2 separate regions of the Homo sapiens genome follow, and region 1 is linked to region 2. The links come from fine-mapping of genetic effects on gene expression. A gene starts in region 2. The other region holds a variant in brackets. All regions are shown on one strand. Distances are between the middles of the regions. Region 1 has its middle 34 kb from the start of PIAS1. Region 2 holds the start of CLN6 (CLN6 transmembrane ER protein).

Region 1 (5,516 bases), 210 kb before region 2:
ATGGAAGCACAGAAGAATGGCTATTTTCTTTGTATGACTAAAGCCTCAGGGTTAGGCGGTATATCATCAGTGAGATAGTGGTGTGGGTTTTGTGATCAGTGGGACAACAGAAGAAGGAAAAAGAAAAAAAGGAGGCTGAGGTGGGAGGATTGCTTGAGCTTGGGAGGCTGAGGCTGCAGTGAACCATGATCACTCCACTGCACTCCAGCCTGAGCAACAGAGCGAGACCCAATCTCAAAAAAAAAGGAAGAAAAAGAAACTAGCTGGGCGCCATGGCTCACGCCTGTAATCCCAACACTTTGGGGGCCAAGGCGGGTGGATCACAAGATCAGGAGTTCGAGACCAGCCTGGCCAATGTGGTGAAACCCCATCTCTACTAAAAATACAAAAAAAATTAGCTGGGCATGGAGGCGAGCGCCTGTAGTCCCAGCCACTCAAGAGGCTGAGGCAGAAGAATCCCTTGAACCTGGGAGGCAGAGGTTGCAGTGAGCCGAGATCACGCCACTGCACTCCAGCCTGGGTGACAGAGCAAGATACCATCTCAAAAAAGAAAAAAAGAAAGAAACTATTAGAGCCATGAATGAATCTGACTTTGATGACTCAGAGAGCATAAGAATATGTGAAGGAAGAACTCTGTCCCATTTCTACATGACATCAAGGGATCCTCCCCCCTCGGCCTTGCTACATGCTGGGATTACAGGCGTGAGCCACCATGCCTGGCCCTTGATATTTTTTCAAGAGGTAAAGACTTGTTCCTTATAAAATCCTATATTTTATTAAACAAATAAGACTTTAATGCAGTTAATTTCATCCCCACTCTGGTCAAGGAAATATATATTATGTTTACCAGTTACTCAGCAAATGTTTCTCAAGAACTGTCTTAGGCCCAGTGAAGCCAGTCAAAGAATTATCAAGCCCATTGAGGAGGGCTTGATCATTCAGTCATCTACTTGCAGGTGGTTGGTGCAAGCTATGTTATATTTAAGCTGTATTTGGATTACCAATTTTCAGGAAATTAAGACAGAATGAAATATACTTGGCATTGAAACTATTTTGAGCCAGGCATGGTAGCTCATACCTGTAATCCAAGCACTTTAGGAGGCCATGGTGGGAAGATTGCTTGAGCCTAGGCGTTCAAGACCAGCCTGGGCAACATGACAAGATCCTGTCTCTACAAAAAAAATGTTTTTCTAATTAGCCGGGAGTGGTGGTTTGTGCCTGTAGTCCTGGTTACTCAGGAGGCTGAGGTGGGAGGATTGCTGAGCCTGGGAAGTCGAGGCTACAGTGAACTACAATCACTCCACTGCACTCCAGGCTGAGCAACAGAGTGAGAAGTCCCTGTCGAAAGAAAGAGAAAGAAAGAAAGAAAGGAGGGAGGGAGGGAAGGAAGGAAAGGAAGGAAGGAAGGGGAGAGAAAGAAAGAGAGAAAGAAAGAGAAAGAGAAAGAAAAGGAAAGAAAAGAAAGAAAAGGAAAGAAAAAACTACTAGGGCCATAAATGAATCTGTCTTTGATGACTCAGAGGGCATATTTTTTCCTTTCTTCATTTAACAAATATTAAAATACTGAATGTCCCTTATGTGTGAGGTCCTGTTCTAGAGCTTAGAAATATAACCATAAACAAGACACAGCCCCCACCTTCAATGAGGTCTCTAGTGTAGTTGGGGGAAGCCCGTAGCGGGAGAGAAGTGGGCTGATGGGCTGGTGAGTGGGGATTTCAGTGCTCAAGGAGCAGTGCATGTCAGGATTGCCTAGAGAAGGGGTGTGTTACTCAGATGTTTGGGTGGGGCATGGCCCAAGAAGGCCCTCCAGAGGAGGTGACATCTTCTTTTGAGACCAGAAGATCAGTAGGAGTTTGCAAAGGGAAAGTAGGGAGGGGAGGGTGGGACAACATGTTCCAGGTAAGGGAACAGACTGTGCACAGGCTGGGACCAGAGAGCTTAGCCTCCAGGAACGAACCACACTCAAAGGTCCAACAGGGCCTCAGGGCTGTGGTTGAAGTGCTAGTTGTTACTGTTCTTCCTGACTGTATTGCTAAACTGGGACATTTGTACATTACAGTTTATTTCTTCTCCATCATCTGCCCACCATGAGCTCTATGAGGTGGGTAGGTGTTGCACCTCCATTTCACAGACAAGGAACCTGAGGCTTGGCATTGCTGTAAGGTTCTGTGAGTATGGGGAAGTCTTGGGGAGTTGGAGGTTTTGCCTGCCTACCCTGGCCTCTGTCACTCCACAGCTGCCTTAGATGAAAGATCACTTGAAAGGGTATCTGATCTACCTTCATACCTCTGGGCAAAAAAGTGTCATTTGCTCCTCTGGGAGCTGATGGAGGTACGAAGGCATAGAATTTCTGCAATCCTGCAGCGTAATTAAACACATGGATGCTAACACAGGCAGACCTGGCCTAGCTCTGCCACTTGTTAGTAGCCGTGTGCCTTGGGCAAATTACTTAACTGAGGCTCAGCGATGCCTCCATCCAGCTGAGACTTGATCTGAGTTCTTCCCCTCTTCAGCAGCAGGGGTGGTGCAACACAGCTCCAGGGTCTCACCTAGTGCCAATATCACTGTTGGGGAGAGGGATAGTGGGGAGTGGCAACGTGCTCCTCATCAGACATGTGGTACCACTGAGACAACCGTCGGCCCTGCCCACATGGTCCCTTTGGGCCCAGTAATGCTGTTATCTTCATGTCATGTTTGGGATTCAGGCACTGTTTGTGAGTCTGCTTGTAGTCACAAGCCAGCACCGATTCCTTCCTGGGGACGTGCCACCTCTCAGGAAGCAGAACCATGCTCCCTGCTGATCAGAGACCCTCAGGCCTCTCTCTTCTTTTTCCCCACCAAGATG[C/T]TCTATTTTTGTCCCTAAACACCACCAATACCTGCAAACCAGCTTCTTCCCTTCATTCCTTAGCAAACTCCCTAATTTTCCCTCAGGCTTCTTGGGTTTCCCGCAAACAAAAGCCAGAAAGCTTTGCCTCCTTCTGCCTTCTGCTCTGCCTGAGAGCTTTTTCAAGGTTTCATAGTTCAGAGATAACTCTCTGTTTAAATGAGAGGAATGGGGAGGAGCAAATGAGGGAGGGAGGCAACCTATTAAAATCTCAGTATATAAAATCTAGCTGCATAGGCAAGAGGCAACTGAGGTTCCCAAATTCGGGAAGCAAGGGGTACATAGAAGGGGATAGATCCAAGGGATGGGCAGAAGAGAGAATCATTGACACTTATAGACCAGTTCAATGTGGGAGTCTCACCATGCATGCCTGAATTAGCACTCTGACCCAGGTCAATCAAACAAAGCAATCAGGAATTGTCATTTTAAGTTGACCTTCAGTTACCTGCAAGTAAATGAGTTGATTTACCATCTGTTGACTCCTCTCAGTCAACTGAACACGGTAGAAATAAACACGTATGTTTTAGGTTGATTGGGCTGGATGAAGGGTATAAGGGGCTTCATATGATTTTGTGTGTAAATGTTTAAATTTTTGCATATTAAAAATGTTTAAGTAAATCCATTTAAAAGCCAACTTTTATGATCCATCAACTTTTACATTATAAAAAGAAATAGTTGGCTGGGCGCGGTGGCTCACGCCTGTAATCCCAGCACTTTGGGAGGCCGAGGTGGGCGGATCACGAGGTCAGGAGATCGAGACCATCCTGGCTAACACAGGGAAACCCTGTCTCTACTAAAAATGCAAAAACAAAATTAGCCAGGCGTGGTGGCGGGCACCTGTAGTCCCAGCTACTTGGGAGGCTGAGGCAGGAGAATGGCATGAACCTGGGAGGCGTAGCTTGCAGTGAGCCAAGTTAGTGCGGCTGCACTCCAGCCTGGGGGCAACAGAGCGAGACTCTGTCTCAAAAAAAAAAAAAGAAGTAGTTGAGCTAATATTTCAGACTCAATGTGAACACTTCATGCTACTACTGAGATGTTCTCTATAACCGTTAGTTCAGATCTAATGAATGTTTGAAACTTGAGAAGATTTCTTGCTAAAGAATAAAAGAAACATGCAGCGCAAGAGAGCAAGAAATGAGGGGAAAACCCTAAGGCCATAGGAGCCATGTCTGTATTTTCTCTTTTTTTCTTTCTTTTTTTATTTTTTTGAGACAGAGTTTTACTCTTGTTGCCCAGGCTGGAGTGCAATGTTGTGATCTCCGCTCACTGCAACCTCCACCTCCTGAGTTCAAGCAATTCTCCTGCCTCAGCCTCCCGAGTAGCTGGGATTACAGTCATGCGCCACCACACTTGGCTAATTTTGTATTTTTAGTAGAGATGGGGTTTCTCCATGTTGATCAAGCTGGTCTCGAACTTCTGACCTCAGGTGATCCACCCACCTCAGCCTCCCAAAGTGCTGGGATTACAAGTGTGAGCCACCGCGCTCGGCCCATGTCTGTATTTTCTTAGAGGAGAAACTAAAGCCAGAAAGGAAAAGGAGAGTATCACAACATGAGTGAATTTGGCCTTACCCTCAGCATCCTGGATTAACAGGGAGAGCAAGGGGGCTGGAGCCTGCGGGTACAGAGCAAGAGAAGATGACCCCACCTCAAACTACGCCCCAGGGCAGCCAGCAGAAGTCAAGACACAGTGTCCAAAGAACTTGTTGTACTTGGAGTCAGACAGGAGGAAGCACCTTTGTTCTAGGTCAATTTATTCGGAACAACGCTGCAGCCAGAAGTTGGCTGTTTAGAGAACGTTGGCCAGTTCCTCAAAGGGAGAGGCTGACAAATGTAGGCAGAGTGTCCCTGTCACTGGTCCAAGGGTCAAGGGAAGTGGAGGGACAAGACAGACACAAGGCAGATGCCCAGCTCTGGTGCCTGGCTGAGTGTGGTCCTGAGGCTCTTTCCAGTTGGCAGGAAGGAAAAACAACTTCTCGTTACTTCAGCTGATGTTCAGGATACGTTGAGAAAGTGACTTGACCCCGTCTACTTTTTTTTTCTCATTTTTAATCTGTGGCTCCTGACCTCGGAATGACTTCTGTGAGACCGTAGTGTCTGGTACCTCATGGCTTTTGCTCACCGTCTTCTCAGATGGTCTCCAGGCTTCAGCTTCCCTGTCTGCTACACACTGTCTTAGGATGAGGCGCCTCTGAGGCACCTATTTGTATGCTGGAAGTTTGCTGGGGAGAACTCTCAGGATCAATGCCTGTAAGGAGAGAGGGATGAGGGCCTCAGCCAACCTTGGGGGGAATTCTGGAGTTGGGATGGCTTTTCAGAGTTGCCTCCAATGAAGGTAACGTAATCACCTGATGGGTTCTTTTTTTTTTTTTTTTTTGAGACGGAGTCTTACTCTGTTGCCCAGGCTGGAGTGCAGTGGTGCAATCTCGCCTCACTGCAAGCTCCACCTCCCAGGTTCATGCCATTCTCCTGCCTCAGCCTCCCATGTAGCTGGGACTACAGGTGCCCGCCACCATGCCCGGCTAATTTTTTTGTATTTTTAATAGAGATGGGGTTTCACCGTGTTAGCCAGGACGGTCTCAATCTCCTGACCTCGTGATCTGCCCGCCTCAGCCTCCCAAAGTGCTGGGATT
Region 2 (5,000 bases):
CTGGGATTACAGGCATGAGCCACCACACCTGGCCAGTAGATCGTATCTCAAGGGTCGTGGTTTAATTAATACATGCAAAAACTTAAGAGCAGGGCCTGATCCATAAAAAGTGCTAGTGTTTTTTATTGTTATAAACATATTATTTGGAAATAGGAATTTGACTCTGGAAAAAAGAGCTAAAAGAAGCTAGGGTGATTGTCTCTGGTGCTAGGGAAGAGTGGGACAGGGATTACTACTTTTTAAAACTTGAAGCCTTTGCTATTTGATTTATCACGGGCACTAATTATAATACTTTCTTTTCTTTTCTTTTTTTACTTTTTTTTTTTTTTGAGACAGTCTCACTGTCATCCAGGCTGGAGTGCAGTGGCGCCATCTCGGCTCACTACAACCTCCGCCTCCCAGGCTCAAGGGATCCTGGTGCCTCAGCCTCCTGAGTAGCTGGGATTACAGGCATGGGCCATCACACCTGGATAATTTTTGTATTTTTTAGTAGAGACGGGGATTCTCCATGTTGGCCAGGCTGGTCTCGAACTCCTGGACTCAAGTGATCCACCCACCTTGGCCTCCCAAAGTGCTGGGATTACAGGCGTGAGCCATGGCACCCGGCCTAATTGTAACACTTTCATTATAATACAAAAACTGGCAACAAAGCAGGTGGACGTTGGAATGGGTTACCTTAAGAGGTAGTGAGCAAAGCACGGATGCAGCAGAGGAAATCCAAGCATCCTAGGAACTGGACAGGATGATTCTGCCTACTCTCTTGAGCAGCAATGATACTGGGAATGGGCTGAAGCCACATTGTGGGGGGCAGAGACACCCTGGGAGACAGAGAGCTCCCACCCTCACACCACCCCCCTGGGAATACCCTGGCTGGTGGGGAGCTCACACAGGGGAAGAGGGACATGACTCCTTAGCAGCCAAAGTGGAGTCGTAAGAGCAGAGCCCGTAAGTCAGAAACCCTGGGTTTAGGCCCTGGTTCTTGCCAGCAAATGATGTAACCTCTTTGGGCCTCCATTTCCCCATCTGTACATTGGAAGTGACATCTGGCAGCTCATTGTCAAGACTGAGTAAGATGCTAGACATGGGAGCCCCACACAGGAGATAAAGTGGTGACCCTATCTGAGACCCACAGGCTGTTCCCATTGGGCTGTCACAGTTCAGGGCAGTCAGTGACCCCCAACTTGGCAAGGATTCGGAACAGAGACATCCCGCAGGCAGAAGAGGCTGCCTGGAAGAGGGGAGCTGGTAAATGGGTTGGGTCACAGCAGAGATGAAACCACTGGACACGGCGTGGGGCAGACAGCCCGGGGACTCAGCCAGTCAGGCTCCTCAGCCCATCTAAGCCTATTTCCTCATCAGTAAAATAATACTTAACTCACAGGCCGAGGGAGACAGGTGAGCTACAGTATGCGGTCTATGGCCAGTACATTGTTTCTAAGTGAAAACGGACACAGTCCGCAGCTGCTCAGCCCGCATGTCCGCAGCAGCAGAAACGAGCCATCCCTCACCTCAGCCCAAGCGCTCAGACTTCTCCCTTCATCCAGGTCGTACCAAAAACTTCCTAACAAGGACTTTGCGCATGCTAGTGCTCAGAAACTTCTCACGACTCCCCAGTGCCTATGGGATAAAGACTGTGTCCTTAACCTGTCACCTAGGACAGGAACTAGGGTGAGACAAGCAAGGCCTCCAAGGCCCAACATTTGAGGCGGCACTCACGGTCACGGCAGTGCGCCTACCCCTAAGTTTTGCAATCTAGGTCCTCAACTCGAGTCCTAGACTTGCTGCAATTAAAGGCCCTTCACAATCAGTCTGCATCCTCCTGTCACTTTCTTTTACAGCCGGAAAGCTCCAGCACCACTAAACTCCTTGCCCTTCCCCACTGTTTCCCTGGATGGAACAGCCTGTCTTCCCTGGGTCCCCTACCAAGTCCTCTGAGACTCAGCTCAAGTGCCACTTCCTCCATGAAGCCCTCCAAGATGACCGCTCACTCCCACTTGGGCTCTGTCTCTCCTGATCCCTACAGGACCGTAAGCCTCTCCCACCTTCACCCTGCCTACCCCCTTACTGCCTGGCACAGCGCTGGGCATACCACAGGCGCTTAAAGAATGCCTGCTGAATGCAGTGAATGTTTCTGGTCAGTAAAACGGGACGAAGGTAGAATGGAGCTCTGCTCGCCCAACGAGATAAACCAAAAACTGAGAAGGGCTCCTCATTCATTCTCTGGACGGCAGCTTCCGCCCTTCCCCGCTGTCTCTTCCATTACATTCGCACATTCTTGGGTGCCCCAGGTCAAGCAGACAGCCTCCTGATAAATGACAGAATCAAGTCCTACTCAGGGCTGGAGGGACCCCGAGAACGCGGAGGTGGCGCCCGGAACTTGCGGATAAGTTGGGGGTCCGAGTGACGAGGTGTGTGTACCCACCGCCCTGGGGAGCTCTCCCAGCGCAGCGGCTGTCCCGGCGCCAGCCCGGGTCGCTGGAACGCGGGAAGGGAGGAAAACCCCAAACTTCGGGCGGGCGCTCCTCCCACCCGAGCAACGGCGAAGCGGGGAGGCCGAGCCCCGCTGGGCCCCAGGCTCCCCAGACAGAGAAGGAAACGCGGGGGCACCGCCGCCACGGTAGCGCGCCTCCAAGCCCCCCGCGCTCCGCTCCGCCCCGGCCAGCGCCGCACACGAGGTTCCCGCCCGGCAGCCCTAGGAGCGTCACGTGGCGGGTCCCGAGGCCCCAGCGCACAGGCGCCTAGCCCGCCCTCTCACCCCGGCGCGCGCCCACCTGGCCTGCAGGAAGGAGGCGCCCAGCTGCGCGCCTGGGCCGCCCGTCGCTCCCAGGTGCTGCCGCCTCCGCGTCGCCTCCATGGCTGCCCCGCAGGCCCCTCGGCCCTGCCTTTCCGAGGAAGAGACCGGTTCAGCTCGGCTGCCCCGGCGGAGGCCGCCGCAAATTCCCAGCGCGGGGCGGTTCGGGGCGGGCCGGCGAGAGCGCGCGGCCCTCGGGAGGAACAGGCGGGGCTGCGGACCCGGGGCGGGGCGGAGCGGAGCGGAGCGGAGCGGAGGGAGGCGGGGCGGAGGGAGACGGGGCGGGCTCCGCTAGGGGAGGGCCGGGCGCTGCGAGTGTGGCGTCCTCGCGGGGCGGGGGCTGCTGGCCTGTCCGGGCTGCGCGCGTGACCACCAGCGGGCTGGGATGTGTTAGGGTCCCTTGCCTGCCTGGGTACGGGAATCTCTGTCTAGGGTGACTGAGGCCTGGGTGTTGGGCTGGGGCGGGGTAGCGACCTGGAGATAGACTAAGCTGATTTAAATGCTCCCCGGGGCAGAGGGTTCTGTGGGATTTCCCTTGTTCTTACGGGTGGAGGAGAGGAGGCAGGACTGGAGACCTGCACGTGTAGCACCCGCGTGGTGCAGCACGTGGGTTGCAGATGTTCTAGTGAGGGGCTGGCGGTGACAGTGGGAAGGAGCGAGTTGGTGACATCTAGAGTCGTGTGAGAGGTATGGTGACTGGGACTCTGGATGTGGGGGGTGAGGGGAGAAGAGTTCAGGCAGTGGCCGGATTCTGCCCCTGGGTGGATAGTGGAGGCACCCCCCGGGAAGTGGGCTAGAGCAGATTTCGTGTAAATAAAGATTCATCTTTGAACGCATTAAGCTTGAGGTGGGTCAGGAAGGCTGTTGGACCGGTGGTCTGAAGCTGAGGCGAGACCTGGGAACCCAGTGGACAGGCTCGTGAGTCACCGGAGCATACAAGACAGACAGAACCTAAGGGGACAGCATCCTCAAGTGAAAAACAGAACCAAAGGTCAAACCTGAGAACAGCCTGCAGGGCAGATTGCCAGGACTTCATTAGTGGTACCACTTTGAACTAGCTGTGATGCGGGCAAATGGCTCAACCCCTCACAGCTTCAGTTTACTCATCTGTAACAAGAAGATGCCTATTGCATCTACTACATTGGAGTTGTGATGACTATATGAAACTCTTAGCAGAGAGCCCAGCACTGGTGGACTAAGTTATTTACAATAGCCCGTCTCGAGACCTGAGGTTTCCCTCCACAGAAAGGTTACCTTCCACACCACTGTCAATGTCACAAACTCTCTCCTCCCCACGGTCACTGTCAGCAGCCCAGGCCGCTAACTAGAACAACTGCAACCAACTCCCATTCTCCCCACCACCCCCGTGCTACACCAGGCGCACACGACATGTGCAGGTCTCCAGTCCTGTCTCCTCTCACCCAGCCCTCAAGCCGCTGCAGAAGGGATGTGCCTCTTGGAAGGGATGTGCCTCAGATGCAAATGCAATGTGCCATTCCCCTGCCCAGTATCCTTGGTCTGCTTCCCAGACCATGAGGGGTCTGAGCTATGCCTATTTCCATTCTATTTTCTTTCCTGTCTTTCTTCTTGGGAGATGTTTATTGGATTTATTTCTTTCCCCTTTGGTCAGAACCTGCATGTCCTTTCTTGGCTGTGGGAGGCTAGGACTGCCTGCCTGGGAGTCATTTTCCATCAGCCCCATCCTGGGCTCTAGCAGCCCACAGGCCACACCTCAATCCCCCCCCTCCGCCCCTGGTCCCCTGAAGAACACATTTGCTTTAAAGCTTTCCTTGTTTCATTTGATCCACACACACCAGGTCGTAAGGAGAACAGGTGATTGTCTCTGTTTTGTAGCAGAGAAAAACCTAGGCCCTGAGCTGAAGTACTGTGCCCAAGGGTCAGCCAAGGACAGCACTCAGACGGGGCCCCAGATTTAATTCTGGTGAATCTGATCTACACATCGATCTCGGTATACACCAGAGAAGAAGGATTGAGGCTTCCCGCTCTGACCCCAATTTCTTATCCTCTGCAGGCTTTGCAAGCCTGCTGGGCTCCAGAGGGAGGGGCATGCAGTGCCCATGATGTCATCATCGATTTAATAACACTCAGAGGTGGGCTTCCAGCCATCAGAGGATGAGGCCGTGTGGAGGGAGCCTCTCTAGCTCATTTAATCCTCCAATCTCTTAAATACAAACACATCTGCCTTTTT

The links. PIP is the estimated chance that this variant, and not a neighbour inherited with it, causes the effect.
Region 1: its variant is the best candidate, but not a certain one, in a credible set for the expression of CLN6 in whole blood (INTERVAL, PIP 0.73).

The regions. Positions count from the first base shown.
Region 1 is chr15:68,017,609-68,023,124 of GRCh38, forward strand. No RefSeq gene overlaps it. Among named protein-coding and RNA genes, the nearest start is that of PIAS1, 34 kb to the right of the region's middle. RefSeq lists enhancers at 2,131-2,669, 2,670-3,207, 4,436-5,219. The variant C/T (reference allele first, on the strand shown) is at 2,846.
Region 2 is chr15:68,226,731-68,231,730 of GRCh38, forward strand. CLN6 (CLN6 transmembrane ER protein) reads right to left here and starts at 2,998. Exons shown (of 7, transcript NM_017882.3): 1 at 2,772-2,998. The coding sequence starts at 2,854. RefSeq lists enhancers at 2,283-2,352, 2,383-2,462, 3,693-3,742 and silencers at 2,503-3,092, 2,862-3,041.